Linked DNA regions of Homo sapiens. The protein of the gene in region 3 interacts with the protein of the main gene of each other region in a pairwise test. Each region holds a gene or a part of one and is shown on either strand. Other genes may lie near its edges. The genes, in order: RGS20, ALG13 and MAPKBP1.

Region 1 (10,507 bases), on a different chromosome or scaffold from region 3:
AGAAGACCGACTAGGTATGGGCGTTCACTCGGAGCCTCTGTTCACGCTCTTGAAAACCGAATGAACAGAGAAGTGCCCTCCACCCTTCGCCTGCGCCAGGGCAGTTAACGTGCAGGCGCCGCCGGGATTTTCCTGGAACAAACCCGGGCACTTGATCTTCCGCACCCTCGGAGCTGCCCTGGGAAGTCGAAACAAGTCTGGGCGCCCGGACTGCGGAGACTGGAAAGCAGGGGGCGGAGGGCGGGAGACTGGGGGCGGGAAGTGGAGGTGCAGGCTGCAGCTGGGGACCGCGGTGGGCGTTGGAGGGGAGGGTCTGTGTGCGCGGCTGTCCTCCAGCGCTGGGGGAGCGGACGGGCCAGGGGCCTCTAGGGAAGCGGCGCTCCGGGACCGGGGTGGCTTTCCCGTCTCTGTGTGCGCGGCGATCCCCACACCCAGCTCGGGCGGAGGAGCCCTGAGAGAAGCGGCTAGCTGAGAGTGGGGTGGGCGTTTTGGGGAAAGGTTTGCGTGCGCTGCGGCCCTACCGCTGCTAGAGAAGTGGAAGAGAGAGAGTGGGCGCCGGGAGGGGGTCTATAGGCGCCGCGACCTACCCCATCTCCCTCCACGCTTGTGGGGGAGTGAGTGGGGAAGGGGCTTTGGGAGAGGCGGCGCGCGGGCACTGAGGTGCATCGTGAGCTTCCCGGACTTGACAGCATCAAAGGAAAATCCTGGCGAGCAGCCAGGGCCAGCGAGCGACCCCAGCAGCAGGGACGCGGCCGTGCGAGAGCTCGCGGACAGGCGAGGGGGATCCCAGGGGAGCAGCTGCTGCCCACGGGCCACGGGCGATGCACGGAGTGGAGAAGTGAACGTGGTCTACAGGATTTCTGTCCGGAAGGTGGAGAGCGCTACAGGGGAATCTCCTCGATTCCTGTCCGTCTCGTAACTTGGCAAAAGCTCGCGCCACTGCCCTCCGGCCTGGGCGACAGAGCAAGACTCCGTCTCAAAAAAAAAAAAAAAAAATGGCAAAAGCCTATCGCTCTTTGTCGAACTCCCCACGTTCCCCAGTCACCTGGCTGGGGTTCGTTGGTGTCAAAACCCCAGCCTTGGTGCCCTCGGTGCCAGCAGGACCCTCGCCCACTGGCTAGCGGAATTAGGCACCTGCACGCGGGCTCCTCATTGCCCCGGAGTGTGGGGAGGAAGGGGCTTCTGCATCAGTCTCCAGCCACCCTCCTTGGGACACAAGTGGCAGGGCCCTGGCGTGGCTTGGCTTCATTTCATCCCTAGTGGCTCCAAACCGTGGAATTGACTAAACAAATGTTCAAATTCGCAAAACGGTCTGACTTCCGCCCCAAACTTGACAAGGACATTTCTAGTGAAATTACTCTATCTGTAAGTTTTTTGGCACAACCATAGTTTGCAATTTACTATTTTTGTTAAAATATTTTTTCTCCAAACCTAATTTTTTTGGGGGTCTCATCCTGTTTATCTTCTGTTCGTTAAGTGACATCTTTCTTTCTTTTTTTTTTTTCTTTGAGACTGAGTTTCGCTCTTGTGGCCCAGGCTGGAGTGCAATGGCGCGATCTCGGCTCACTGCAACCTCCGCCTCCTGGGTTCAAGAGATTTTCCTGCCTCAGCCTCCCAAGTAGCTGGGGCTGGGATTACAGGCATGCGCCACCACTCCCGGCTAATTTTTTGTATTTTTAGTGGAGACGGGGTTTCTCCATGTTGGTCAGGCTGGTCTTGAACTCCCGGCCTCAGGTGATCCGCCTGCCTCCGCCTCCCAAAGTTCTGGGATTACAGGAGTGAGCCACTGCGCCTGGCCATAAGTGACATCTTTCTTATCACGTATTAGTAACGCATATGAGAGGCAGTGTTGCCAAACCAGTGGGAGTCTTGAGCTCTGTAACTGGGTTCAGATCCCAACCTAACTGCATAAACTTGGACTAGTTACTTATCCTCTCTGGGCGTTAGTTTCATCATCTGTGAAATGGGGGTAATAAGAGCACCTACCTCGGCAGCTCAGCAGAGCACGGTGGCTCACTCCTGTAATCTCAGCACTTTGGGAGGCCGAGGCAGGTGGATCACGTGAGGTCAGGAGTTCTAGGCCAGCCTGGCCAACATGGTGAAACCCCATCTCTACTAAAAATACAAAAAATTAGCCGGGTGTGGTTGCTGGCGCCTGTAATCCCAGTTACTCTGGGGGCTGAGGCAGGAGAATTGCTTGAACTCAGGAGGCAGAGGTTGCAGTGAGCCGAGATGGAGCCACTGCACTCCAGCCTGGGCAACAAGAGCAAAACTCCGTCTCAAAAAAAAAAAAAGAGTATCTACCTAATGTGCTAGCTGACAGCATTCAGTAAATTAATAACATAGAGCTCTTATAACGGGATGGCACATACCAAGCAAAAGCTGTTATTACTATTATTATATTGATGCTAAATTGGCTAGACTTCAAACTATAAATAAGATCAGTAACAGAATGCATATTTTTGTATACTATAAAGAGTATGCATAATGAAACACATGTCCATCATCCAAATTAGAAAAACAGTCTTTTTTTTTTTTTTTTTTTTTTGATGCTGGGTCTCACTCTCTCACCCAGGCTGGAGTGCAGTGGCACGACTGAGGCCCACTGCACCCTTGAACTCCCAGATTCAAAGGATCCTCCCACCTCAGCCTCAGGAGTAGCTGAGACTTAAGGTGCCTGCCACCGCACCTGGCTAATTTTTTAATTTTTTATAGAGACAGGATCTCGCTGTGTTGCCAGGGCTGATGAACAGCCAGTTTAAGAGAATCTGAAAATGTACCTTAGGAGCTTGAAGTGCTAACTTGTCTGAGATCACTGTAAACGTTTTAGCTGAAACACCCCTTATATCAAAAATACAGAATGATGAAAATCAGGTTACTTATTCTACCTCCTTCGTTTTACAGATGAGGAAACATTCAGAGAGGTTAAGGGTCTGGGCCAGAGATCTCCAGCTAATTAGGGGCCAAAATAGAATGAAGACTTCTGACTCATTCCCCAGGGCTCTTACACACCACACTGCTGATTTCCTGTTTACTACGGATTAATGAACTGTTAACAGATAGAAAGTATAAATAAGGAAAAAGTGTACGAGCATGTGCTATCTCTAGCACCAAGAAGGACCAGGCAGTCATGTCGTGGCTACTGTTGTCCCACAGCTTTATCTTGGTCCCTCACATTATAAGACATGACCACATGACTCGCCTCAGGTAAGGTAAGGTCACAGATCAAGCTATTGTCAGAGCCAGCATTAGCATTTTAGGCCCCACTTGGGTATACATTTGATTGCATATTCTATTAATCTCCTGTAGCAGTTTTAGAAATCATTTTTGAGCTTTTCTTGAATTCTTAAAATATCCTTCCAGCTGGCTTTGAAGGTCTTTCCTATAAGAAAGCCTTTTAGAAAACGCCTTCAAAATTACACAGAAGGAGATTTTATTATTCTAGATTTTATGGACTAGCGAGAGTAAAAGAGAAAAGCTTTCTTATTTTAATGCAGTAGCCTGTAACTGGTTTCATTCCAGGCATTAAGTATTAATTCCTGAAATCCTGCTGTTCTTTTATTTCCGCATGTGGGCATCTAACCACATTCACCTTCCATGGACAGATGCAGATAGTGGCTTAAAGGTCCAGCCCTCACATCCACAGTTTAAGAATTATACAGCAGAGGCCGGGCGCGGTGGCTCACGCCTGTAATCCCAGCACTTTGGGAGGCCGAGGCGGGTGGATCACGAGGTCAGGACATCGAGACCATCCTGGCTAATGCGGTGAAACCCCGTCTCTACTAAAAAATACAAAAAATTAGCTGGGCGTATTAGCGGGCGTCTGTAGTACCAGCTACTCGGGAGGCTGAAGCAGGAGAATGGCATGAACCTGGGAGGCGGGGCTTGCAGTGACCCGAGATTGCGCCACTGCACTCCAGTCTGGGCGACAGAGGGAGACTCCGTCTCAAAAAAAAAAATGAATTATACGGCAGAGACTTTCTAGTGAACATCTGGTCTTACAAAGTTATTTATAGGGATGGTGTGTCTTCCAGGGGAGGTACTTCTAGGAATTATGCCTGCATCCTTGAAAAAGGAAACCGTGGTTTTTTCCAGTGTGTGAACTGGATACTGAGTATCTTACTCTTTTTTTTTTTTTTTTTTTTTTGACTCCAAGAAACCTCTTGCATGAATACCCTACTCTTGAATACTTTGCATCTTGGGATACTTACTACATGTTCTTAGACAGAAGGACAGGGCATTAAGAAGGGAGTGACTTTCTAGCATGCTCCCAAGCCAGTTTGGCAGAACTTAGTTTTGAAATCACATGTGTCAAGTTAGGTCCCAATATGATTATAATGTGAATCACTGTCCAATTGGGAATATTTCAGATTGGTTTTCAGTGCACCACCAGGTGACTCACAATGTGAGCTTCTATTCAAACAAGTACAGTGTCAGTCAGCAACTAATAGGGCTCACTCTGAGTCAGAGCTTAGCATTTAGTACAATAAGTGGGAGTCACTGACTACACGGCACCATCTGAGATGGTCCCTGAATGTTACTTTGCGCAGCTAGCTCAAGAGTTAAGGCGACGCTGCTTGGAGTGAGTCAGTTCATAGTACAATTGAATGGGCTCTTGGAGAGGCCATTCACAATCAAGTTTGATGTGGCTGAGTGCTCAGAGTAATATTACATGATTATAAATTCATGGAGTAGATTACCTTGATTCTAATCCAGCTGATTAGAGTCTAGCTATTTGCATAGGGAATCACTTGTGAAATATGAGTAATATGCTCTGTTGCCCAGCAGTGATATTTTACATGAGTTATTTCAATAGTTATTAAAGCCAGTTGACCTTTTTGATTTTGAAAGCTCAATTTCTAGTTACGCATTTATTTTATTCTAAAGTGTAAAATCCTTTTCATGTGAGCATTTGGGTTTTAGGCAAAGGCATCTCATGCAAAGTTATCTGATAGCTTGGCTTCCTGAGGTGCTGGGTTGTACGATGTGCACCTCCGTCCAACAGTGAAGGAGTGGAGAACGCCCTGCTATCTGGTTTGTCTACATTTGTGCCCCTCTGAAGCTGACTGAATTGTGGTTGTTCAAGGCTGGAGCACAAGTTTGTACTGCTGCTCTTAGACTAAGGACACTGGGGACTTTAACCCTTTTAGGGCTGAATGGCTAGAATCAACACTTATACAGCTGTTGAATTTTTGCAACATTGGAAAGAATTATGTAACCTACTCCTTACCTCACCCTTATAATGGACTTTTATGTCTCAGGGTGGGGTGATAATGTGATTTAAGGGACTCGTAGATTTCTTTCTTTCTTTCTTTTCATGTCTTTTATTAACTAATACACAATTACTTGTCTTCTGGTTTGTTGAAGCAATAAATCAGACAACATTAGCCACAATAATGCCTGTCAGAGTGGCTGGCCATAAAAACTCCAGCACCGCATTCATCTGAAGGGCACTCCCAGCGAAGGCCACTAATTCTGCCATTTTCATCCACCTTATAGTATTTCAGGACACCCACTTCACCTTCTTTCTCTTATGCTTATTCTTGGGAGTCGTGTAAGATTTCTTCCTAGTTTTAGCACTACCATGAAGTCTCAACACAACATAAAAAGAGTAAATTCCTTTTGAATGTTGTAGTCAGAGAAAGTTATGTCCATCTTCCAGTTACTTGCCAGCTTCCAGTCACTTGTCTTTGCTGATCAGGAGGAATTCGTTCCTTATCCTGGATATTGGCCTTTACATTTTTCTGTTGTATCCAAGGGTTCAACCTCTAGGGTGATGATCGTCCCTGTAAGGATTTTTGGAAAAATCTGCATTTTGGTGGAGGCTCCACCTGAGGTTGAGGGAAATGAAGAGATGGGTTAGACTGTGGACACAAGAGAGGTGACACAGGAGAGGGTGCTGGCCAGAGAGCAGCCCAAGAGCACACGCCCATAGATTTCTTAATTTGTATAAAAGTCATGTTGATAATTAATGACAGGAAGTCATTATCCAGAGAACTCAGATTAGACTACTGTTAAAAAGTACATGTGGCCAGGCGTGGTGGCTCACGCCTGTAATTCCCACACTTTAGGAGGCCAAGACGGGTGGATCACTTGAGCCCAGGAGTTCCAGACCAGCCTGGGCAACATAGTGAAACCCCGTCTCTTTAAAAAATGCAAAAAATTAGCTGGGTGTGGTGGTGCACACCTGTAGTCCCAGCTACTTGGGAGGCTGAGGCTGGAGAATCACCTGAGCCTGGGGACACTGAGGTTGCAGTGGGCCATGATCTTGCCTCTGCCCTCCAGCCTGGGCAACAGAGTGAGACCCTGACTTAAAAAAAAAAAAGGTATATGTATATTTTTCTCTATTCATCTTTTGATGACTCCAGAAGAATCTTACATGTATGGGGTCTTCCATTATACATTCATTGTGTTTTTACAAATACTTATTTCTAGTGACTACCCAGATATAATTCATATATCTCCTGCCATAAAGAAAGGTATAGATATTTCTTTGCATTTAAGGGGGACTTTACATACAGAGTTTAATTCTTCCTGACCTACTATAATCCCCGCAAATTTCAGTTGTTAGGACTGTTTAATGAATTAGAGTATTTCTAAAACTGAAACAAAGTTTTTCTGTGTTTGTTAGGTTTCAGTGAGGAGCTATTTGGTATTTTTGTGAGGTTTATGACAGCTTTTAACTTCATTTACTTGAGTTATAACTTACAGTAAAGTTTACACATCTTAAGAGTACAGCTTAGTAAACTTTATGTAAGTGTACCCCCACAGAACCACCATTTAGATCAGGGTTTCTCACCTCAGCACTGTGGAAATTTGGGGTTGAACAACTCCTTATTGAGGGGGGCTGTCCATTGCCCTGTAGGATGTTTAGCAGTATCCCTGATCTCCACCCACTGCATGATGCAGTAGCGCCCCTCCCTGGATGCCATGACCAAAAATGTCTCTAGACATTGCCAAGCGTCCTCTGGGGCCAAAATCACTCACCACGGCTCTAGATGAAGATATAGGATATTTTCAGCCCCCCGTGCTCTCCCAAAGATTCCGTCTCGCTTCCTTCCATTCAGGACTCACTCCCACAGGTAACCACTTTTATAACTTTTTTCACCATATACCAATTGTGCCTGCTTTTAAACTTCATATGTAATTAAACAGTGTATAATATTTGCATCTGGTTCTTTAGCTCAGCATTATGTTTTTGAGATTCATTTGTTGTTGTACGTGTTGTTATTTTTTAATGCTGTGCAGCGTTCCTTTGTGTGAATACACCACAGTGTATTCCATTCCACTACTGAAGAAATTTTAGTTGTTTCCAGTGTGGAGCTATTATGAATAATGCTAATATGAACATTCTCATTCATGTCTTTTGATGAACTTATTTCCTTTGGGTATATGCCCAGGATAAAAATTGTTGGGTAATAAGTCCAGTGTATGTTTAGCTTTAGTAGATACTGCAAAACTGTTTCATAGTCCAAATCAGTTTACATCCATCCCCACCAGCAAAGTGTGTATTGCTTCACATCCTCACCAGTACTTAGTATTGTTTGCCCATTTAACTTTAGTCATTCTGGTGGCTGTGTAGTGGTATCTCATTATGGTTTTAATTTGTATTTCCCTGGCTACTAATGATGTTAAGCATCTTCTTATATGTTTTTGGGTCAAGTCATTTGTATATTTTCTATTTAAAATGCCTCTACAAGCCTTTGGCCCATTTTTCTTTTTCTTTCTTTCTTTCTCTCTCTCTCTCTTTTTTTTTTTTTTTTTTTTTTTTTTTTTTTTTTTTTTTGAGACAGGGTCTCACTCTGTTGCCCAGGCTGGAAGGCAGTGGCACAATTAGCCGTGAAGCTGAGACTATAGGTGTCCACCACCACACTCAACTAATTTTTTTATTTTGGATATTGGGAAGGGGTAGAGATGGGGTTTCACCATGTTGCCCAGGCTGGTCTTGAACTTCTGTTTGGCCCATTTTTCTATTGTGCCGCTGATCTTTTATTATTGTTATTATTGATCTGTCACAGTTCTTTATATATTCTGGATACAAGCCATCTGTCAAAATTCTGTGTGTGTGTGTGTGTGTGTGTGTGTGTGTGTGCACGTGCTGCAAATCTCTTCTTCCAGTCTGGCCTGCCTTTACACTCTCATTCCATTATCTTTTGACTTTCCTAGTTTCTGTTGGAAAGTTATGCTTCTTTGAAGGTAGCCTGTTGTTATCCTCATAAAGTTTTTCTCTCATTTTTGACTTACCACAGTGAATATAATGTGCCTATATGTGGTTTTCATTTTATTTATTCTCCTTTGGGTTAACTGAGCTTCTTTTATCTGTGGATTGACGTCTTTCATCAACTTTGGAAAATTTTCACTCAATATCTCTTCAAATATGGCTTTGTCTGGTTTTCTTTCTTTCTCTCCTGCTTCTGGGACCCAAATCACAGATATGTTGGCCTTTTTCCTTCATGTCTCTTATTGTCTGATCTGTTTTGTTCATTTCGCATATCTTTCTGCTTCAATTTGAATATTTTCTGTTGACCTGTGTTTTAGTTAATTAAGCTGTCTTCCTCTGTGCCTGAGTCTTCTGTCAAATCATCTAGTGAGTTATTAATTTCAGAACTTGTTTTCTTCTAAATGTAGTATGCCAATTTGATTCATTTTAATACATTTAAATTATCTGATGAAATTTCCCATCTTTTCATCAGTTTAGTCCATCTAATTCTTATCTACTAAATCCAATGAGATCATCTGTGTGCCTGTATCCATTTTTTTATTCATCACATTTTTATCTCTCTTCACATATCTAGTAATTTTTATTATATGTAGACATTGTATATAAAGAAACTGTGTAGGTTCTGGTAATTTCTTCCACCAGCAAGGATTGAATCTCCCTTGGAGGGATTTCCTGTCTAAGGATGAAGGACTGAAGGGCTGATCACTTCAGGCCAGCAGGTATTAGAATGGGTCAGATCTGGTAACAGTTTTGGGGGTTTTTTTGTTTTGACATGGAATCTCCCTCTGTCACCCCTAGAATGGAGTACATTGGCACCATTATAACCTAGAATTCCTGGGCTCAAGCAGTCCTCCCACTTCAACCTCCTGAGTAGCTGGGATTACAGGCACTTGCCAATTCACCTGACCATTTTTTACAAATGTTTTGTAGAGATGGGGTCTCGCTATGTTACCCAGACTGGTGGCTGCAGTTTTAATAAGATTTAGCTAATGCCCAGTTCTTTCTTGTTCCTTGGGAATTTTCTCTTGGATTCCAGAATGAAAGCCTGATGGACTTCTATCTCCTTGGTCTCAAAAGAATGGAAGACTCAGTCTTGCCTTCAGAGGTTTTAAGTTTGTTCTTTGCCTCCACCTTCCCCATATGGCCGCCACATTTGATAAATGTCTTGTAGGACCCAGCCATGTGTTTGAGGAAGTCCTTGTTACTGAAGGGGACTTGTTCTGCCACATGAGAAAAGAGTCCCTTTATGTCCACAGCTTGTGCTAACGGTCAGCAAAAGCCCTCAGGAAAAAAACAGCTAGTGACAGACAGCTCAGCTTGGAAGAACTCTCTTACTCAGAAATTTTAGTTTATATAATATTTTTGCTTTCACAGTTCTCTGATGACTTTAGAAATGTAATTTCACTTATTTATCTGAGTTTTTTAGTTGTTGCATAAGAATAGTGATTTGGGCCAGGCGCAGTGGCTCATGCCTTTAATCCCAGCACTTTGGGAGGCCAAGGTGGGTGGATCACTTGAGGTCAGGATTTCGAGACCAGCCTGGCCAACATAGCAAAACCTCATCTCTACTAAAAATGCAAAAAAATTAGCCAGGTGTGGTGGCGTGTGCCTGTAGTCCCAGCTACTCAGGAGGCTGAGGCAGGAGAATCGCTTGAACCCGGGAGGCAGAGATTGCAGTGAGCCAAGATCATGCCAGTGCACTCTAGCCTGGGTGACAGAGCAGGATTCTGTCTAAAAAAAAAAGTGATCTGCCTTGACCTATTGACATTTTTCTTGAATTAATTTTCTGTGTATTACATTGTTATCTTTCTTTTATATCATTTGTTTCCAATGTAATTCAGAAAATGTGTATTTAAAAATTTGCCATTTGTGAGTGTAAAATGTAATACATGTTTTGTCAGTTTGAAAACACTGGAAAGAAAAGAAGTATGTTATAATTTTTGCAACTTTTTTTTTTTGGTCAGTCCCTTCATCTAGGCAGCCTAGGCCCAGATTTTTTTTTAAATTATTATTATTATTACACTTTAAGTTTTAGGGTACATGTGCACAATGTGCAGGTTAGTTACATATGTATACATGTGCCATGCTGGTGTGCTGCACCCATTAACTCGTCATTTAGCATTAGGTATATCTCCTAATGCTATCCCTCCCCTCTCCCCACACCCCACAACAGTCCCCGGAGTGTGATGTTCCCCTTCCTGTGTCCATGTGTTCTCATTGTTCAGTTCCCACCTATGAGTGAGAACATGCGGTGTTTGGTTTTTTGTCCTTGTGATAGTTTACTGA
Region 2 (10,507 bases), on a different chromosome or scaffold from region 3:
GGTTGCAGTGAGCGGAGATAATGCCACTGCACTCCAGCCTGGGCAACAGAGCGAGACTCCGTTAAAAAAAAAAAAAATAAATAGCATCATGTATTCTACATTCCTGTTTGAACCTAGCCAGATTTGTCTACCTTTTGTTTAGCCGCCTACCAAAAAAAAAAAAAAAAAAAAAAGAATTAAAAACTGTATAATAAATAGAGCATTCACGTAGGGAATTAGCCATTAGCCACTTAATAAGTAATTAAATATCATTTGATGACTGGGCACAGTGGCTCACGCCTGTAATCCCAGCACTTTGGGAGGCTGAGGCAGGCAGATCACTTGAGCCCAGGAGTTCAAGACCAGCCTGCGCAACATGGCAAAACCCCGTCTCTACAAAAAATTAGCCAGGTGTAGTGGCCCATGCCTGTGGTTCCAGCTACTCCAGAGGCTGAGGTGGGAGGGTCACTTGACCAGGGGAGGCAGAGGAGCCAATATCTTGCCACTGCACTCCAGCCTCGGTGACAGAGAGACCCTGTCTCAAAGGAAAAAAAAAATTGTTTGGTAATATCCTAAACCTTTCTCTATGTAAGCTTTTACTAGAAAACACTATAGTGCTTTTCATATACCTGATTTTTAACATCATGTTTTGCCACAAATCCCTGACAGGTACCATTATTTGACAGACCCTTAAATACCATTAAGATACTGCATAGAATCAGCACTGTTATATTTGGGATGCTATTCTTATATGTGCTTGATCCTACAAACTTACCATACAATATGATGGTCACATCTTCTGAACAAGAGACTTACTAGATACTTCGCTGTCAAATCAAAGTCAGTATGAAATAAATGTGTACAAGATGACAGTGTTTCCTAGAACAATACCTAATCCTAATCAAGACAATCAAAAAAGAGTACTAGGTTACAGAAGTGCATTCATCATTTATGGAAAGCCTACTGTGTTTCAGGCAAAGGACTCAAAAATGAGTAAGACATAGGTCCTTCAGAGCAGGAATCATGTCTTGGATCCTGCTGATACAAAAGGTAGATTCTCATTATGCATTTATATTAAAAGCCTGAATGATGAATACATAAGCTTGAGGTACTTAGGAAATAAAGCTGTGAGTGCTTGGAAACCAATTAGATATAAGGGGTTGGAGACAGAGTTAAAGGCTAGAAGAATGACTAAATGATGATACCATTAATAAAGATAAGCACCTCAGAAGAATGAAAAGAAATATGATTTCAGTTTGGGGCACACCTTGAGTTTGAGGTGCTTACAGAATTAACAGACAGACAGGGCCAAAGGCAATTGGAAATATCATTTAGGAGCCCAAATCAGAGTTGGGAGATACAGATAAAGGAGTCAACAGTAGAAGCTGTGGGAATGCTGAAAATTCCAAGAAAAGAAATAAAGCAAGGACCAAAATGAAACTTTAAAATACAACTAAGAAAAAAGAAAAAGATTTGTAAATAACTTGCAATCAGGTAAACCAATTGAAAGAGTTTCTCCACATGGATTCTACACATGGATTCTATGAGTAGCCATCACTGTGGTTTTTTAAGTAGCAATGTAAAAATTCAAAAAGGTTATACACCTATGGCTAGCATACCGTTACGCCTGTGGCTAACATACAATCTAAATTTCTTAGGAAAATCCTCTGATTTCAAATATTCTCTCCTACTGTCCCCATAAAGGATGGAAGTATACTGGAATTCAGTGTTCAAATTACAATTTCCACAACATCTCTTGGACCCTAAAATGAAATACAACTTTTTTCACATTATGTTATTTGTAGAATGGACAATACCAATTATTGCACAGGAATATTTAAAGATTAAATGAGTATATATGTGTAAAGTGCTCTGAATAGTACCTGATACATACTAAGCACTAGTGTTAACCAAAATTATTTTTCACTCCCCACTCCCCAATAAAAATATCGTATTACGGCCGGGTGTGGTGGCTCACGCCTGTAATCCCAGCACTTTTGGAGGCCAAGGTGGGAGGATCACCTGAGGTCAGGAGTTTGAGACTAGCCTGGCCAACATGGTGAAACCCAGTCTCTACTAAAAATACAAAAATTAGCCCCACGGGGTGACACATGCCTGTAATCCCAACTACTCGGGAGGCAGAGACAGGAGAATCACTTGAAACTGGGAGGTGGAGGTTGCACTGAGCCGAGATCACGCCATTGCACTCCAGTCTGGGTGACAGAGCGAGACTTGGTCTCAAAATAAATAAATAAATAAATAAATAAATGGTATTACATGTACAGCAGAAAATTGATCACCACATGGCTATCATGATGACCCTTTCCAAATGTTTCCCCAAAATTAATTTCAAATGATCTGTCCATGTGTCATTTCTCAGACTATATGAAGTGTTTTGGTCATCTCCACAAATTTTACATTTATGAACAAATCAGAGGAATTACGTGCTTATACCACAATAAAGGGCCAGGAAGAATATTTATATTACTGCTAGTCATTACTTAGTCTTGAAAAACTTCCTCAAACTAAATATTAAAGTGGCAAACAACCTTTTTGTACTCTTTTGTGCCTATATATGACTTGCCTTTAAAAGAATACAAAGTAGAGCCGGGTGCAGTGGCTCACGCCTGTAAAACCAGCACTTTGGGAGGCCGAGGCGGGCGGATTGCCTGAGCTCAGGAGTTCACGACCAGCCTGGGCAACACGGTGAAACCCCGTCCCTACTAAAATACAAAAAAAAAAAAATTAAAATTAAAAAGTAGAGGTCTAAGGTGTCCAAAATCAGATACTTGATGGTACTTGCAGATAATGACTACTTTTAAATGTTCCAGAACCCTATGTCAAATTCATTGGTTATACTATCTTACCAACAAATCCTTTGAGCTTTCTTTCCTCCCAAATTATAAGTATCTAAAATCCTTAATTCCCAAGGTCATCCCAAAACATCACATCTCTTTTCATCTACTCCAACCCGTAAATGTTCTATTAACTGTCTACCTCTTAATCTATCCATGGTGCAAATTTCCCAATGCTAAACTCTCTTTCATTTCCTTATCCCTGAAAATTTCAGTACCTCTAATAGAACACTGCTAAATAAACTGCATTCCACTTACTCATTAATATCAAGAACCTGCAGCTCTGTCATGTAATGAAACCAAACAAATAGAGCAAACATTTCAAACAGACTTTTGGTTACCATTCTTTAATAAGGACTAATAAGATGTAAATGTGGTGATTAATTTAGCATGTTTCCTCATCTGTAAAACTGGTGGTTTAAAATATTCTTTAAATTATCTCCCAACTCCAAAAGTCTACAATTCTGTCTTAAAGTCTTAATTTATTCAATCTACTATCAATCCTACCCAGAGCATTTTCCTAAATTCCAAAAACTCAGAAATCACAGATTTCTAAGTCCTAGGTAAGGTTGTCATACGCCAAAGGAAAACCCAGTTAAGTGTGAAATTCCTACTAAATAACTTCCATAAATAAACAAACAAAACCTACCTTGCAAGGAATTCGAGTAACTAAAATGAACACTAGGCAAACAACTATAAAGAAACAAAAAGCTTACAACATATATTATGCAGGGTAGAAAGAGCAGGGGACTGGGAATCAAGGAGCTGCTCCTAGGGGCAGTTCTGCCAAAAGCTATACTTTAAGCAAATGGTAAAATCTGAATATGATGGAATTGGACTAGATAATCTCAAGAATCCGTGCCAAATCAAAATGATTTTAAAGTCTCCTTTGACTTAAAAATCCAAAATCGATACAAAATTCCACAAAAGGGAAGTCAGAGGCGTTACTGCACACAATTGACAACAACGGCTTAAACCTCTGCTAAATGAAATAATGGAATTTAGGTTATGCATTATTCTGGGGAAGTAGATAGCAAAGGATTTAGGGGCTGTATAGCCTTTTAGTTGTCTGATATTTGAGTAGACCTTGCCTTTCATTTGTTTCTCTTTAATTCTTCATCATAAACTATAAAAACTAAGTGACCAACATAAAGTCACAATTTTCTCAAATGAGAAAAACGTATTTATGAGGGCCCAGAAAACACTAAAGATTCTCTCCCTGGATTTGAATAGGACCTTTCCTAAAACATAACATTGATATACAATTATGATTATGGTGCTGTGAATTCTCAACCAGATTACTCACTTTTTAGATTATTCTCAGCAAAATTTTAATCCAAGTTGGCTTCCTCCTGCTACCCAGAGTATTTCTTTGTCACCACCTTCTACCACTAGTAAGCATTTTTTTAATATTAGCCTAAATAAAACACAATCAGAAAAATAAACCTATAAAAACATGATAAAATGCATTCCAAATAAAATGTTTGGAACATTTAGCATGTTGGGATAATATGATTGGAATGGAAGAGAGGTCTTTATAGTGAATGTTCTATTTTGATAGATAAACTATATCTAAACATTGTACCAGAGAGCTATGGACACTTAAGGATAATCTACTGTAAAGGTCTTGAGACCACACACTCTAATCAGAAAGAACTTCATAATGTATCTTGCTCAAGTTAAGTCAATTTTAAAACCATATATTTAAGCCATTATATGCATCAGTTTATTGTTCATTCATAAAACTAATTTTATAAGCACATAAATTGTAAATTTCTGTTACAGTTAATGTTTCATTACCACTGTGAGAGGAGATCCTTAAAAAACAATAGTAAGTCCTATTGGTATAAGTCCTTTTTGATTATTCTTCTCAAACCAGTAAAGTTTTGACATTAGGCACGATTATTTTATCACTTTGTATGTTTTAGAAAAAAAAAGTGAATATATCCACTCCACTCTGTTCTTTAGGAAAAAAGTAGCTTTTCCAAGTACAAGAGATCAACTAACTTGATCATCTTTTTTAGGCAATGATTGAACTTTTCATTTCACAGAGCATAATCCATCATTTTTTAAATTTGGTTCCTTAGATTATAAAGCTAAAGATGCTAACTCTTATGTAAAATTTTTTTACATAAAAGTTGTTACTGTTTCATTTTTTTATTCTAAGGAGTATCAAACTAACTACATTTATAATCTTTGTGAAAGTTTTCAAATCTCATTCATTTTTATGATTCCAATTCCACTTGAGATTCTAGGAGAAAACCTGTGAATGCTCACTACATACTGAAGATTAGAAAAAAATCTAGTAATTTCACTAAACTGCAATTAGGATTTGGACCCAATGCAAATGTGCACAACATAAAATTTCCTATACATTCTATAGATGTAGGAAGTTTATTAATTATATTATTTTGTAAATATATATTATGTATTTAATTTGATTTAATCACATTACATAGGTTGAATTTGGGGGTTGCTTTTAAAGTGTTGAGAGTTTAGTGTTTATTTTTGTAATCCAACAACTTTATCCAAAAATGCAGAAAATTTTTCTGGCTGGCCAGGAGGATAACATTTCAGTGTTGATAAGTCCATTGACTGTAACAGCCCAGGAAGCGTGCTAAAACAAAAGAAGAAAAATATTAGGTAACATGGGAGAAAATTCCATACTTCATCTGCTGCCCACTGATGACTGAATCTAACTTCCAAGAATATAGTGGTACTTCTAAAAACTGCACATGTGAATTTTTATATATTTTAATAAGTATACATACTAGGATTATTAAAGCAATACAAAGAGTACTATAAAATGTCAATATAAATTCAGCAGATACCTTATCTCCTATGTCAACTGATATATTTCAGAAATGATATTTCATGAAAAATGTCTTCACATGGCTTTGTAATACTTCTCAGGACTGGGCATATTTAAACTGAAGCACAATTCATTCATGAAAACAGAATTTAAAAATTGAAACCAAAAGTAATAGCTGCCAGACAAGATAATAAGCTGGGGAAACTACTAGACCATGCATGAAGACTGTGAAATAATCTTTGCCAGTAATTTACTATCATAACTTCATATACAATTAAACAATATACCACACCACCATGTATGCTGGAAATAAGGTTTTAAACATAGAACCATTACATCGGAAATTTATTTAAACCAATCGCTTAAATTAGAACAAACATACTACCCCCCAGCCTAGGTCTGGGGAAAATAAATGATTTACCTAAAATGAAAATATAACCAATTATTGGCTGGGTGTGGTGGCTCATGCCTGTAATCCCAGCACTTTGGGAGGCCAAGGCAGGCGGATCACCTAAGGTCAGGAGTTTGAGATCAGCCTGACCAACATGGAGAAACCCCGTCTCTACTAAATATACAAAATTAGGCCAGGCATGGTGGTGCATGCCTGTAATCCCAGCTATTCGGGAGAATTGCTTGAACCTGGGAGGTGGAGGTTGAGGTGAGCCGAGATCGCACCATTGCACTCCAGCCTGGGCAACAAGAGCGAAACTCCGTCTCAAAAAAAGAAAAGAAAATATAACCAATCAATTACTGATTCTTTCTCACTGCTTACTGCTTTTATGTGACTTTCTTGAAATTAATATAGAAAAAAAGACATTTAAAACTGTAAAAAAATAAAAATAAAATAAATTGGAGACTTGTACAGTTTCCTTCCTTTTCAGCATGAGTAAAAAGTCAGGATATGTTTATGAAATCAGTGTTTTCCTTTTAATGTACTAACACAAAATCAAAGCTGATTTAACATTTAGAATGAAAATACTAATTAAAAGTATCTGGAAAAAATTGACTTGCATAAAGCAGTTAGGAAGATAAGTTTATTCCTCTTTAATCTAGCTTCTCTCCTGACTCACTAAATAGTTCAAGACTGGCTTCTATGTTACACAGCCACCCTGACATTCCCTCTTCTCCAACATTATAGTGATAAGGACACCAACAATTTCACTCCTGAAATAATCAATGAATCTGCCTCCTCTCAGTTAAGAACAGGAGTCTTTGTTTTGTTCACTGATGTATACCAAGTGCCTAGAACAATGCCTGGCACATAGAAGGTACTCAATAAATATTTAATGAATGAATAAGTATTTACTGAGTGCCTAAGAGACAGAAGCAGTAAAACTAAAAGAAAAATTATGCTCCAGCCAGTTTCTTCTCAGGTTTTTTATTTTAAAATTAATTTCATTTTACTATAATGTAAATAAATATATATATACACATATATAGTAATTCTATGAGGCATTTACTTCTTGCAACATCAAACTAGGATAGGTTTTAAAGTCAAACAAGTGGGAATTACTGACCTGGCCCTTTGGCAAGCTTCTAGTGTCTCAAGGAAGAACTAATAGAAAACAAACAAGTAATTTTCTTCATCCTTCTATTACGATGATCAGTTCCTGTTGAATTCTAATATACTTGTAGAAAATAATACTCCTTACCATAATTTCTCTGCTTAAAATACTTCAATGGCTTCTCAATAAACATGAATAAAATCAGAACTCTTACATAAGCTACCCCCACCCAACTTCATCTTCTATTATATTCCCTTGCTCACTATGCTCCTGCAACACTAATCTTCCCTCTGTTCCTCAAACACACCAAGCTCCAAGTTCATTCCTTACTTAGGCTTTTGCACTTGCTGTTCCTTCTGCCTCCAAATCTTCACATGACTGGCTCTTCCTTGTATTTCGGGTCTCAGATCAAAATGTTAGGTACTCTGCCAAGCCTTCTCTGACAATTCTAATCAGTCTTCACCCCAGCTACCACATCACCCTGTCTTACTTTCTTCATAGTACATTTCACCACATGAAATACCTTGATCATTTATTTGTGAACTTATTATCAATTTTCCACCACTAGAATGTAAGCACCATAAGAACAGGGACTTTATCTCATGTTTACTACTGTATCCACAGCACCTAAAACAGTGCCTTTTATATATTGGGTGTAACTGAATAAATGAAAGAGTAAATATAATTTAGGGATTTTAGTGGATTTACTATAGGCAAAACTTTTAACTAAAATGAGCAAATTGTCTTCCTTGAATAATGAAAATCTAAATAATGAACTCAAAATTTAGAACTCCAAAATTAGTGTCTTGGAGACATGCACGCCTAAATAAACACACATACACACACTCTCTCAGATATTCACATATGCAAAGAAACAGCCACAGATACACATAGAAATACAACACAGAGATTGCAAAATGGGAGACAAACAAATGGGAGGATTTTACAGCTGAGAAAATCAAAAGGTTTGGTAACTGGGAGAAGGTAAGAGGCAGAAGAGACAGATGGGTTAGGTAGGTGGATAAGAGGAAGTGCAAGGGACGAATTAAGGCAAGAGATAATAATAATCAGTCTCTAGCATACCTGCAGGTACAATAGAAGAGATGACCCTCTTTGTGTAGCTGCTTTGCCAGTTCCAGCTGATGATTGTTCATCAACTTTTCGTTTATAACCACTACGAGTGGCTTTCCTTTTTCCAGAGTCTCCAAACAGCTTCCTGCACCTACAAATATAAATCAAATTTGTTCAACACAATTTGAAATAAGTTAAGGTCCCCACGAAGCTTTATAGCTAGAAATCAAAAGTTAAAAAACTTAAGTTGACAGAACTACAAACTAGGTCTTTCAATTATACATTCAAAATGACAAGAGTATAGTTATCAGTTGCTCTCTAATAAAAAGTGCTAGAAACTTTATTTGAAAAATACATTACTTTATCACTGATGATGACATTATGGCCTATGATTCAGTGCTATGCTACTTGCTCTCTAGTACCAATGACCCTCAACTTACGATGGGGTATAGCCTTGTGACGGGGTATAACCCCATCATAAGTTGAAAACAGGCTAGGTGCAGTGGCTTATGCCTACAATCCCAACGCTTTGGGAGGCTGAGGTGGGAGGATCGCTTGAGCCCAGGAGTTCAAGACCACTCTCTGCAACATAGAGAGACCTTGTCTCTACTAAAAAATCAAAATAAAAACAAAAACAATAAGGCATGGTGGTTGTGGTCCCAGCTACTGGGGAGCCTGAGGCGGAAGGACTGCTTGAGCCCAAGAGTTGGAGCTTGAAGTGAGCTATGATTGCACCACTGCACCCTGTCTTGGGTGACAGAGTGAGAACTCACCTCAAAAAAAAAGGAAAAAAAAAAGCAGTTGAAAATATTCTAAATAGAAAATGCATTTAATACACCTAACCCACCACACATCACAGCTTAGCCTAGCCTACCTTAAACATGCTCAGAACACACTTACATTAGCCTGTGGTTGGGCAAAATCATCTAACACAAAACCTATTTTATGATAAAGTGTTGACTATCTCATGCCATTTATTAAATACTCCAAGTGTAAAACAGAATGGTTATATGGGTACTCGAAGAGCGGTTTCTACTGAATGTGTATGCGTATTGCTTTCACACCACCATAAAGTTGAAAAACTCTAAGTGAAACCATTGTACGATGGGCCATCTGGAGTATGCTTTGGGCATGGCCTTGAATCCAAATAAGATCCAGGTTTGACATACTGTATGTGAAACTATACTTCATTTCTATTCAACCCCAAGTAGAAAAGCAAGCCTACAATAGAGACAGACAGGCATCAATAATGAAAAACCCTGACCACTTCTTATGGGTTTACATGTGAGGTGCTATCCCAGAAATAGTCAAGGATAGATCTCCATGAATATGCAAATATAGAATATTAGGATCAATTCAATTTTGAAATGTAAAATCATCTAACTATTTTAAATGAGAGCAAGGAGATTGATAAGTGAGTAGATAAGTCCTTTTTGGGTATCTTATGCTAGGGTGGTTAGTTAACAACATTAACTCCGGAGGGGTGCAGTGGATCATGCCTGTAATCCTAGCACTTTGAGAGGCCGAGGCAGGTGGATTGCCTGAGCTCAGGAGTTTGAGACCAGCCTGGGCAACACGGTGAAACCCCGTCTCTACTAAAATACAAAGAAAAAAAAAATTAGCCGGGGCGTGGTAGTGTGCACCTGTAATCTCAGCTACTGGGGAGGCTGAGACAGGAGAATCGCTTGAACCCGGGAGGTGGAGGTTGCAGTGAGCCGAGATAGCATCACTGCATTCCAGCCTGGGTGACAGAGTGAAACTCCGTCCCAGAAAAAAAAAAAAAAAAAAATAGAAAGAAAGGAAAGGAAAAGAAAAGAAAAAAAGAACATAAACTCCAGCACCAGATTGTTATCTGTCCACCACTTCCCGGCTGGACAAATTACTTAACCACTCTTGTGTCTCAGTTTCCTCATGTGTAAAATGGAGATACTAACAGTACTTAGTTCACAGGATTGTTTAAAAAAGTAAAGTTAATATACACAAAGCATTCAGAGCAGTGCCAAAGGCTCTGTTACCTCCTAGGAGATACATTTTTAATCACGAATCTGTTGGTAATGTCTATTTCTAAAGACTTTTCTCTCCTCAAACTAGACTTTAAAAAAAAAAAAGAAAGGAAAAAACGAAACACCTTTCTTCACAACAGTCAAAACTGCATTGCTCCCCAAAAGCAGTTCTTCTGAATGCACTAGAAGTCTAATTAACTAGACCATCAGGGCGGTCCTCTGAAGAGGAAACAATTTACACAGTATGTAGCTGTTATTATTTTTGACTGGATTCATTTCACT
Region 3 (10,507 bases):
CATAGGGTCAGGATCATCAAGATGTCACTAAGTGACAGGAATATTTTAGCTCCATTATAATCTTACGGGACTACTGTCATACATGCCCTTCGCTGTTGACCAAAATGTTATTATGTGACGTATGACTGTACTTATTCTATGCCAGGTACTTTTTAAGCACTTTATATGAATTATTTAATACTCTGAGCAACTATTATCACCCTCATATTTTAGAGGAGGAAATTGAGATCCAAAGAGGTCAAGCAGGCCAAGTGCAGTGGCTCACGCCTATAATCCTAGCACTTTGGGAGGGCAAGGTGGGCGGATCACCTGAGGTCAGGAGTTCAAGACCAGCCTGGCCAACATGGTGAAATCTTGTCTCTAGCAAAATACAAAAATTAGCCTGGCGTGATGGCGGGTGCTGGTAGTCCCAGTTACTCGGGAGGCTGAGCTGGGAGAATCGCTTGAACCTGGGAGACGGTGGTTGCAGTGAGCCGAGATCGTGCCACTGCACTCCAGCCTGAGCGGCTGAGCAAGACTCCATCTCAAAAAAAAAAAAAAAAAAAAAAGGTTAAGCAGGCAGGGTGCAGTGGCTTTGGGAAGCCAAGGTGGGAGGATTGCTTGAGACCAAGAATTTGAAACCAGCCTGGGCAACATAGTGAGAACCCTGTCTCTACCAAAAAGTAAAAATAAAAAAAATTAGCTGGGTATGGTGGCATGTGCCTGTAGTCCTAGCAACTGGGGAGGCTGAGGCAGGAGGATTGCTTGAGCCCAGGAGGTGAAGGCTGCAGTGAACTATGATCGTGCCATTGCACTCCAGCTTGGGTGACACAGTGAAACCCTGCCTCTTAAAAAAACCAAAAGGGTTAAGGAGTTTGCTTGAGGTAACATAGCTAGTGTGTGTAATGGGGTTCTAACCCAAGTAGTATGACTGTAGAGCTCTGATTGTTAAAATGGCACAGAGTAGGGGGAGACCACACTGTTTTTTTTTGAGACAGAGTTTCATTCTTCTTGCCCAGGCTGGAGTGCAATGGCACGATCTCAGCTCACCGCAACCTCCGCCTCCTGGGTTCAAGCAATTCTCCTGCCTCAGCCTCCAGAGTAGCTGGGATTACAGGCATGCGCCATCATGCCCAGCTAATTTTGTATTTTTAGTAGAGATGGGGTTTCTCCATGTTGGTCAGGCTGGTCTCAAACTCCCGACCTTAGGTGATCTGCCCACATTGGCCTCCCAAAGTGCTGGGATTACAGGTGTGAGCCACTGTGCCCGGCCACTTTCTGCTTATTTTTAACAAATTGCTTTTCCTCTAAGCTGCCTACCTGCCCTTTGAATGAGAAGAGCCCCATTTATGGGCAGCTCAGTCTGTGCAAGGGAGACTTCTGCCCCTGGGTTTGGGGTCAGTGTCTCTCCCAAGTGGTCCTCTGGTGTTTAATGGCTGCAGTAAGGGTGCTGTGGGAGCCACACGGGCTCTGCCTGGCAAAGGCTGGGCTAGGCTCCATTTTCCCCTAGAGAAGCAAGCTGATGGAAAGACCTCTCTACTGGATAAGTTTGTGCAGCCTGCCTCAGGGGAATTCCACTTGTTCTTGCCTCTGCCTGGGAAAGCCAGGTTCCCTCTTGTTGGAGGTGGGGCTGGGGCTGGATGTAGCACAGGCAAAAAAGGCCTTGGGGTGCTGCTTGGTGCATGCTGAGACCTGTGTCCCTGCCCTGGAGAGTGTGGAGTCCTGCCCGCTTTCTTCCTCACACACCCCTGGACTCCAGGCCTGGCCTTTAAGGGCATGTGCTTATGCATGTTTATGAGCAGGTCTCAGCCCAGTGCATGTGCCTGGGAGTCATGATCCTTCCAGATGGTGTACAGGCTTTCCTGATGGAACCTCTAGTAGGTTTCCTAAGCGTGTATGCTTGGCTTAGGCCATCCCTGGGCAGTGCCCCTAATCTGTTCCCTGACCTTTTGATTTCTTAGAACTTGAAGTTGTCTGTGCAAATGGCTTCTTTTCTGGGTGTTTGAGTTTTGCTGTGTTCTAGAACTCCCTGATGTGCTGCTGTGATGTTGGGGGCCACCAGATTCTGTGTGAGCACAAGCAGGTTCTTCACCTCCCTCCTTGTCTCCCTGCTTTTCTTATCTGATCATCCTTACACTGCCCCCAGCCCCCACGCTCTTGTTCCTCCTGTGCCTGTTGCTTTGGGAGCCAGCTCAGGTATCCTAGAAACAAGGAGAGAAACAAAACTCAGAAAATTCTCTGAGGCCCGGAGGCGAATATCAAACCAAAACAAAGTTTTCTGAAAGGAAATGGAACAGCACAGGAAAGGAGGGTGGGCAGTGTGTCAGGCAGAGGTGGGTAGGAGCTCCAGGCTGAGCATGGAGCCTGTCCTAGTGGCTCCTACATCCCTTGGCCGTTGTTTCCCCACGGGAAGCCCCCCTACTAGAGGATGCCAGACAGCCCCTTTGAGAGACTTAATTGAGTTGAACACCCTTAATTGAGTTGGGCCTTTTCCTCAGCCAGCTGGTGGAAGGTTGATGGGCCTTCAAGCCCAGCACAGCCCCTGTGCCCCTGTGCCCCTGTGCCCAGTCCTGAGAATGGGTTTCTCCTGGCTCCTATGCCAGAATGGCCTGGGTGAGTGCCCTGCGCACAGCTGCTCCTCTCCCGCTGGGATGGGAAGTGTCCCAGCAAGGTGACGGGGTGTATCTGGCAGCTAAGAAGAGACCTCTTGGTTGATTTAAGTGGGGAGGAGAAGAGGGAACCCCTGCTCTCCTGAGGAGGCCCTCCATTTCCTCAGCCCATGTTAAAATTGATTCTGAGATCCTCAGCTTTGAAGCATTGCACTGGGTGTGACAGAATTCTCCTCCTGAACTGTGTTCTCGTGACACCTGAGCTGAAGGAACACAGAGCTACCTTCTTACTTGCTGTAGGGTATTCGCCAGGGACAGTAGAGAGACCAGGTGGGCCTGAGAGAAGAAAAGGTTGGGACTTGGTGCCCAGGATCATGCAGTGTGTTAGCAGACAGGCCTGTGACCTCAGTGTTCTGCTCTTTCCACCTCTACACTGCCCTTGAGCATCAAGGAGTCCTAAATGCCTGAGGTACAGGAGAACCATGGACCTCTCCCCAGGGCCCTCATTCACACTCTGCTACCCAGGAGGTTCCTTGGCAGCCAGGGCTTTGAGATCTTGCCCCTAGTGACTTGAAGACATATTCACTTGTTTACAAATAATTACTGAGGGCCTATCGTCTAGGCCCTGGGAAATTAACAGTAAGTAAAACAGACCAAAAATACCATCCTCACAGAACTGGCAGTCTGGTGTGTGAAGATGGATCCCCACCCCCAGTGTAAGTTATAAGCGTGATTACAAATTGATGTGTGCTTTGGAAACAGTAGAAGCGGTAGCAGTGACGGAGGTAGGGTTGTAATGATAAATAGGGCTGGAGGGCGACATTTGAGCGAGGCCAGAAGCCCCTTTGGCATGCTTCTGTGAGTCATTCTCAGATTTTACCTGGTCTGAAAGAAAACAATTCAAAGGCCCAGGGTCCCTGGTTGACCTTGTGTGTCCTGCTCCCTGTGTCTGTGCTGCCCCATGCATAGCTCATCCCATCTGGGGGATGGAGAGTGGTAGGAGGTGGATCCTATGGGAATCCTGGGCTCTTTGTGGTAGCAGCAGGCCTGGACCTGTGTAGGGAAGGGGGATGTTGAAGGCTTGGCCCTTCCTGGGCAGTGGGCCCAGCACCTGGCACTGGTACTCCACAGCGTGACTCCCCCAGGCTGAGGCCTTACGTCCTTCTGTGAGAGTGAGCAGCCGCCCTGCACCCTCAGGTGCTGAGTTGCAGGACTCAGCTGATTGGTCCAACCCAGCCCTTGGCATGTGGTGGATCCCAGCCAGCACTGAGCAAGGGCTCACCCTGCTGGGCAGGGTCAGGGGATGTGGAGAGAAAGATTGATACAAACTGTGCCCCGCACTCCTCTCCCCAGCTGACCTAGGAGCTTGCTCAGAGTTCACCAAGAAGGCTGAGAGGGCTCCTTGGTGCTTTTGAGAACAGGTCAGGAGGGCCTCAAGTCAAGCACACAAGGAGCCCTGGCTATGCTGCTCTCACTTCAGCATCTGCGTTATCGTCCCTGCATGTGTAGCTGCGACCGTGGTTGCATGCTGTCTTTCTCTTGTTGGATGGCTTCCAAATATCAATAATTAGAAATAAAAATAGTTGCTTAAGGGATGACCTCTGTGTGTTTCCTTTTCTTGCTTAGCTCTTCCATGGCACACCTGAGAATTTCTTAGGCTATACTGGGGGCAAGGGGATGTTAGAGGAGGGAGAAATTGCCTCATTGCCTCTAGCCAGTCATCCTTCTATCTACGTAGTGTTCCTACACACACACACATGCATCATTCACCCTTCTTCCACCATGGAGCTGAACATAGGAGAAGGAGGAAACAGAGGATATTGTGTCCCAGGAAGACTGAGTTTGTATGCAGTGACTTGGAAAGTGTTTTAAGCAGTCTGATGCACTACCCTTTAAAGGCTGAAATGCTGCTTTGGGATGAGAATTAAGGGAAAACTCATAAACTTGCAAATAGATCCCAGTTTTTCTGGATTTGGAATATGGTTGGCTGGATTATGCATCGAGTCAATTCAATTAGATCAACTCTCAGCTGAAGCCCTTTACTGTGGTTCCTGTGTAACTAATCAGAAGGCTAGGGAACCTGTCCCCATTCAGACTAGAGCCTTTGCTGGAGAGAGGAGTCTGTAGAGGGCCTCAGGTCAGCACAGATTGCAGGAAGGTTCAGAAAACGTTGTTTAACCACTGAGAACTTTCTGGGCTCTGAATTCATGATAGTGGCAGGCCTGGGGCTATTACTTTTCATATACTGCATAAAGTATTAAAACCTAAATATCTAAATTTGGCTGGGCACAGTGGCTCACGCCTGTAATCCCAACACTTTGGGAGGCCAAGGTGGGTGGATCACCTGAGGTCAGGAGTTTGAGACCAGCCGACCAATATAGTGAAATCACATCTCTACTAAAAATATAAAAAAATTAGCCAGGCTTGGTGATGGGTGCCTGTAATCCCAGCTACTGGGGAGGCTGAGACAGAAGAATTGCTTGAACGCGGGAGGTGGAGGTTGCAGTGAGCCGAGATCACGCCACTGCACTCCAGCCTGGGTGATAGAGTGAGACTCCATCTCAAAAAAAAAAGAAAAAAAAATCTAAATCTGTGCACTTTGAACTCTTATAATTTTCTTTCTTTCTTTCTTTTTTTTTTTTTTTTTTGTAGACCTAGTCTCGCTCTGTCACCCAGGCTGGAGTGCCATGGCGTGATTTTGGCTTGCTGCAAGCTCCGCCTCCTGGGTTCACGCCATTCTCCTGCCTCAGCCTCCCCAGTAGCTGGGACTACAGGTGCCCGCCACCACGCCTGGCTAATTTTTGTATTTTTAGTAGAGATGGGGTTTCACCATGTTGGCCAGGATGGTCTCGATCTCCTGACCTCGTGATCTGCCAGCCTCAGCCTCCCAAAGTGCTGGGATTACAGGCGTGAGCCACCACTCCCGGCTCTGTTATAATTTTCGTTTGCCTGCTCAAGAGCGATGGGGTGCAGAGTTTCCAGAGCCATCTTGCTTTTGTCGTACTTTTTTTTTTTTTGAGACAGAGTCTAGTTCTTGTCGCCCAGGCTGGACTGCAATGGCATGATCTCAACTCATTGCAACCTTCACCTCCTGGGTTCAAGCAATTCTCCTGCCTCAGCCTCCCAAGTAGCTGGGATTACAGGTACCCACCACCACACCTGGCTTATTTTTGTATTTTTAGTAGAGATGGGGTTTTACCATGTTGGCCAGCCTGATCTCGAACTCCTGACCTCAGGTGATCTGCCTGTCTCAGCCTCCCGAAGTGCTGGGATTATAGGCATAAGCCACTGTGCCCGGCCTGTCATACTTTTTAAAACCCTCCTGACTGTGACATTCTAGAAGGGGAAGCAGGAGACTAGAAAGTGGTATAAAAAGAGAAAGGAGTTCAAGACCAGCCTGGGCAACATGGCAAAACCCCATCTCTACAAAAAATACAAAAATTAACTGGGTATGGTGGCATGTGCCTGTAATCCCAGCTACTTGGGAGGCTGAGGTGGGAGGATTGCTTGAGCCCAGGAGGTCGAGGCTGCAGGGAGCTGTGATGGTGCCATGGTGCCACTGCAGTCCAGCCTGGGTGACAGAGCGAGACCCTGCCTCAAAAAAAAAAAAAAAAATGAAGGAAGGGCTGAGCCAGGGTGGCATGAGCCTGTAATCCCAGCTACTTGGGAGGATGAGGCAGGAGGATTACTTGAGCCCAGGAGTTCAAGACCAGCTTGGGCAACATAGTGAGACCTTGTCTCAAAAAAACAGAGAAAGGAAACAGGAACAAGGAAAGAGTAGGAAATGGAGAAAGAAGGAGGAAAAAAAAACAGGAAGAGTTGAGGGGTTAGAGGAGAAAATGATGTGACTCAGGAATTCCACAGCTGTTGGTCAGCCTGGCAGTTCTGGGCATATCTAGTCACATCGGAGGTCCCAGTGTCCCCAAATTTGCATATCAAAGTGGTTTATTGAGCCCAAGATGCTTAGCCCTCACTAGCAACTTGCACCTACCTCCCTTCAAGTTTCCAGCCAGTAGTGGCGTTCAGATATGGGGGCTGCAGTGGGGTCCCACTAGGGAAAATTAGGTCTGGGGGAAGTAGCTGTCTCCTCTTTCTCTCCTCCCTGCCTTTCCTATTCGCAGTCTCCAGGCTTGCTCTTGTCTGCTATTTCCAGTGCTAATGAAGAGTTGAGGCAGAAGGGGCAACGGGCCAGGGCCTGCTGACAGCCAGGAAGCCTAAAGAGAAGCTGCCTGGCTATTGGCCTTTGGCTTCTTGCCCCCGATTCCTACTACCCAGCTTCCATCTCCGGAGCTGCCTCTGGAAAGGCAGGACCTGATTCCATCCAGCAGCCTTGCTGCCTGACGGGAGAGGTTGCCCCCACCTTCTCTGTGAGGCAGGCAGAGTCCCTGATTCTGCTTCTGGCAGTCGGGGGGTTCTTCTCAGGTTTCTTGGGGCCAGAGATTCTCAGGGTGGGGCTTGGGACCTCTGTGGCACTGTAAGGCTTTCCCAGGCCTTCTCAGGCTATCTCTATCCCCCACCCCATCTTACTGAGCCTCTCTGCTGTGTGGCCCCTGCCTCGCCTCCCACTTCCTTCCTTATTCAACACATGGTGTGGGGGGCCAGCTCTTGCCAGGTACACACGTGGGTGCACACGTGAGAGGCCTTACATCTTAAGGCACACATGCTTGATACACGTGTGGCCCCAAGCCTGTGAACGGGCTGTGCACCCGAGGCCTGCTTTGCCCAAATCACATTTCTTCTTCCCTCCTACACCCCTTCCTGGGGTATGCACAAGGGCTGCGGGATGGCCTGTGTCCCTGCTGCCCTTTGTGGGTATGGCCAGAGATAGAGCTGGTATTTAGGGGCCTGGCTGGGGGGACAGGCTTCCAGGGAACCCTTTCACCCTCATGGGGCTACAGAGATAGTTCCTCTTGGGTGGGGAAAAGGAGCAAGAACAGGTTGCCAGGAGAAAGCAGTGGAGGCTGGGCACGGTGGCTTATGCCTGTAATCCCAGCACTTTGGGAGGCAGATCACTTGAGTTCAAGAGTTTGGGACCAGCCTGGGCAACGTGGCAAGATCCCGTGTCTACAAAAAAAAAAAAAAAAAAATACAAAGATTAGCTTGCATGGTGGCACATGCCTGTGGTTCCAGCTACTAGGGAGGCTAAGGTGGGAGGATTGCTTGAACCTGCAAGTTGAGGCTGCACTGAGCCATGTTTGCACCACTGCACTCTGGCTGGGATGACAGAGTAAGATCCTGTCTCAAAAAAAAAAAAAAAAAAAAAAGAAAAGGAAAAAAACAGTGGAGCCCTTCTGAGCTCTTTCTACCCAGCTCCCTCTGCCGGGTGACTGGAAGTCCTGGGTGGCCTGGAGGGCTCCTGGGGGAGCTGTGGTTTGCTGCTGAGCCTGTTGTCTGCTCATCTCCTCAGGTGTGTGGTTGTGTTGTTCAATCCCCGGAAACACAAACAGCACCACATCCTCAACAGTTCCAGGTAAATGGGCTGGGGTCCTCAGGATACCTCTTCCTTCTGGGAGCTATGAGAAGGGCACTGTCTAGAGTCTCTATGGCTCTGGGGGCTGGGACCTGGTTGGGTCCTAAAGCCAGATGGGGAAGTGCCACATGTGCCATTGGTGTCTGCTGGTCTCACCTTTTGAGAGGCTGGGAGGGGGCTAGGCTTAGGCCAGGCTGCCAGTGCCCCTCTGAGCCTGCCCCATCTCTTGCAGGAAAACCATCACTGCCCTTGCCTTCTCCCCTGATGGCAAGTACTTGGTCACTGGAGAGGTGAGTGAGGAAGAGGGCTGGCAGTACTGTAAAGAGGGCAGGTGTCCTGGCCTCCGCAGAGAGCTGCGGTCCTAGGCCTGCTGTCACTTTGGCTTCTGAAACAGACACCAAATCCTGGTTTTCGCTATACCTTAAAATAGTGGTTCTCAAGCTTTAGTGTACATCAGAATCACTTGGAGGGCTTGTGAAAGCACACATCACTAGCCTGGTCCTCAGAGTTTCTGATTCTGTAGGTCTGGGATGGGAGTCTGAAATGTGCATTTGTAACAAGTTCCCAGAGAGTGCTGATCCTGCTGGTGAAGGAAGCGTGCTTTGGAAACCACTGCCTTAACTATTCCTTACCCCCGGGGGCCCCCTGCTGGGCTCAGGAGGAACGCTTCTGTCCTGGCGGCGTAGTCTTACTAGGGGCAGAAATAGACCTGAGTGGTAGTGGCTCTCAATGCCGGCTGCCCATCAGAACCATTCAGGGAGCTTTGAACAACCTGAAGTACAGACGGCCACCCAGAGATGCTGACTAAAATCCGGGGCCACTTTCTTCCTGGTAATCACTGTTGCCCTCAGATCTTTATCATATTTCCTCTATACCCTGCCCTGACTTTTGGCTGGGGAAGTGATGGTATCTAGTAGCTGAGGAGGCGAGGGCCCCGCTCTGGAAGACGAAGTGGGGCTGTATGCCTGTGGAGAAGTCAAGAACTCACTTCCAGTTCTTGCCTCCCTGCAGAGTGGGCACATGCCTGCCGTGCGGGTTTGGGACGTGGCAGAGCACAGCCAGGTGGCCGAGCTGCAGGAGCACAAGTATGGTGTGGCTTGTGTGGCCTTCTCTCCTAGCGCCAAGTACATTGTCTCTGTGGGCTACCAGCATGACATGATCGTCAACGTGTGGGCCTGGAAGGTGAGTGGCTGGGTGGGGTGGCCTGGCAGCCTCACAGGGGTCAAGTGTCAGCTGGGGAGGCAAGAGACTGCTGACCTGCACTGCTCCATTCCACCCCACTGAACCATTCTCATTCTAGAAAGTTATTTGAAGCAGAAAAGAGCAACTGTGTGGCCAAGCATGTTGGTTGAAGGGGCTAGCTTTATGCCTTCAAAGACTTCTGCAGGAAACGAATCTTTTCAGCTCCTCTAGAAAGGGATTATTTCCCTACCCCTCTTTTTCTGGCCAGTAAATTCTGGAAAGAAACACTTTGTCAAGTACAAATTCTAATTCTCCTCCATTCTCTGAGTCACTGTCTTCTTAGCTCCAAGAGACAGAGCCTTGATTCTTCCTTTGGCATCCCCTCCAGAAAAACATTGTGGTGGCCTCCAACAAGGTGTCCAGTCGGGTGACAGCAGTGTCCTTCTCTGAGGATTGCAGCTACTTTGTCACTGCAGGCAACCGACACATCAAATTCTGGTATCTCGATGACAGCAAGACCTCAAAGGTGAGGTGCTGAAGCTGGGAGTAGCCACCAAGGCCCCTGGCAGGGCCTGCCCAGCCCAACCCAGGAGACTCTGCCCCACTTGGGCCTCTCTCTGCATTCCCAGCAGTCATGCAGAAGTTTTGGATGAGCCAGATGCTGTCTGGGCTGAGGAGTAGGCCCAAAGAGCAAGGAGGTGCTGGAGGCGTCCCCTGTACTCTCCTAGGGCCCAGTTTCCAGGGGCAGGCTCTGGGGTGGATGGGGGTGTAACAGTGGTGTGCCTCCACAGGTGAATGCCACTGTGCCCTTGCTGGGCCGCTCAGGGCTGCTGGGAGAGCTACGGAACAACCTATTCACTGATGTGGCCTGTGGCAGAGGAAAAAAGGCGGACAGTACCTTCTGCATCACGTCCTCAGGGCTGCTGTGCGAGTTCAGTGATCGAAGGCTTTTGGACAAGTGGGTGGAGCTGAGGGTAAGTACCTCCGTCCCCAGGGGTAGGGTCTGCTCATGTCTCAGCTCAGGGGAGAACTAGTGCCCAGGGCTTCAGACTAGGGGCTGGTCCCTTGTGCATACGGGAGATCCCAGGAGAACGAAGCTTGGGGGAGCTAGAGCTTGGCCCATTTCCAGCCCTTGGTGATCTGTATAACTGCCTCCTCTCTGCTCTTTCTGTCTCTTTCCCCTGCTTTCCTCTTCCGCTCAGAACATAGACAGCTTCACAGTAAGTGGTGCCTGCACCTTCCTCTCTTTCTCATGCTATTTCTTTCT

The links.
Region 1: the proteins of MAPKBP1 (region 3) and RGS20 interact in binary tests that used the Homo sapiens proteins (3 or more experiments, as listed by UniProt).
Region 2: the proteins of MAPKBP1 (region 3) and ALG13 interact in binary tests that used the Homo sapiens proteins (3 or more experiments, as listed by UniProt).

The regions. Positions count from the first base shown.
Region 1 is NC_000008.11:53,881,666-53,892,172, forward strand, and holds part of RGS20 (regulator of G-protein signaling 20), read left to right. Parts: intron 1-10,507. UniProt on the Homo sapiens protein: Inhibits signal transduction by increasing the GTPase activity of G protein alpha subunits thereby driving them into their inactive GDP-bound form.
Region 2 is NC_000023.11:111,682,831-111,693,337, reverse strand, and holds part of ALG13 (UDP-N-acetylglucosamine transferase subunit ALG13), read right to left. Parts: intron 8,374-10,507; coding exon 8,235-8,373; intron 7,202-8,234; coding exon of another isoform or gene 7,183-7,201; exon of another isoform or gene 7,164-7,182; intron 5,452-7,163; coding exon of another isoform or gene 5,337-5,451; exon of another isoform or gene 3,166-5,336; intron 1-3,165. UniProt on the Homo sapiens protein: Catalytic subunit of the UDP-N-acetylglucosamine transferase complex that operates in the biosynthetic pathway of dolichol-linked oligosaccharides, the glycan precursors employed in protein asparagine (N)-glycosylation.
Region 3 is NC_000015.10:41,802,888-41,813,394, forward strand, and holds part of MAPKBP1 (mitogen-activated protein kinase-binding protein 1), read left to right. Parts: intron 1-7,995; coding exon 7,996-8,058; intron 8,059-8,290; coding exon 8,291-8,348; intron 8,349-9,069; coding exon 9,070-9,240; intron 9,241-9,628; coding exon 9,629-9,766; intron 9,767-10,031; coding exon 10,032-10,214; intron 10,215-10,442; coding exon of another isoform or gene 10,443-10,460; intron 10,461-10,507. UniProt on the Homo sapiens protein: Negative regulator of NOD2 function. It down-regulates NOD2-induced processes such as activation of NF-kappa-B signaling, IL8 secretion and antibacterial response. Involved in JNK signaling pathway.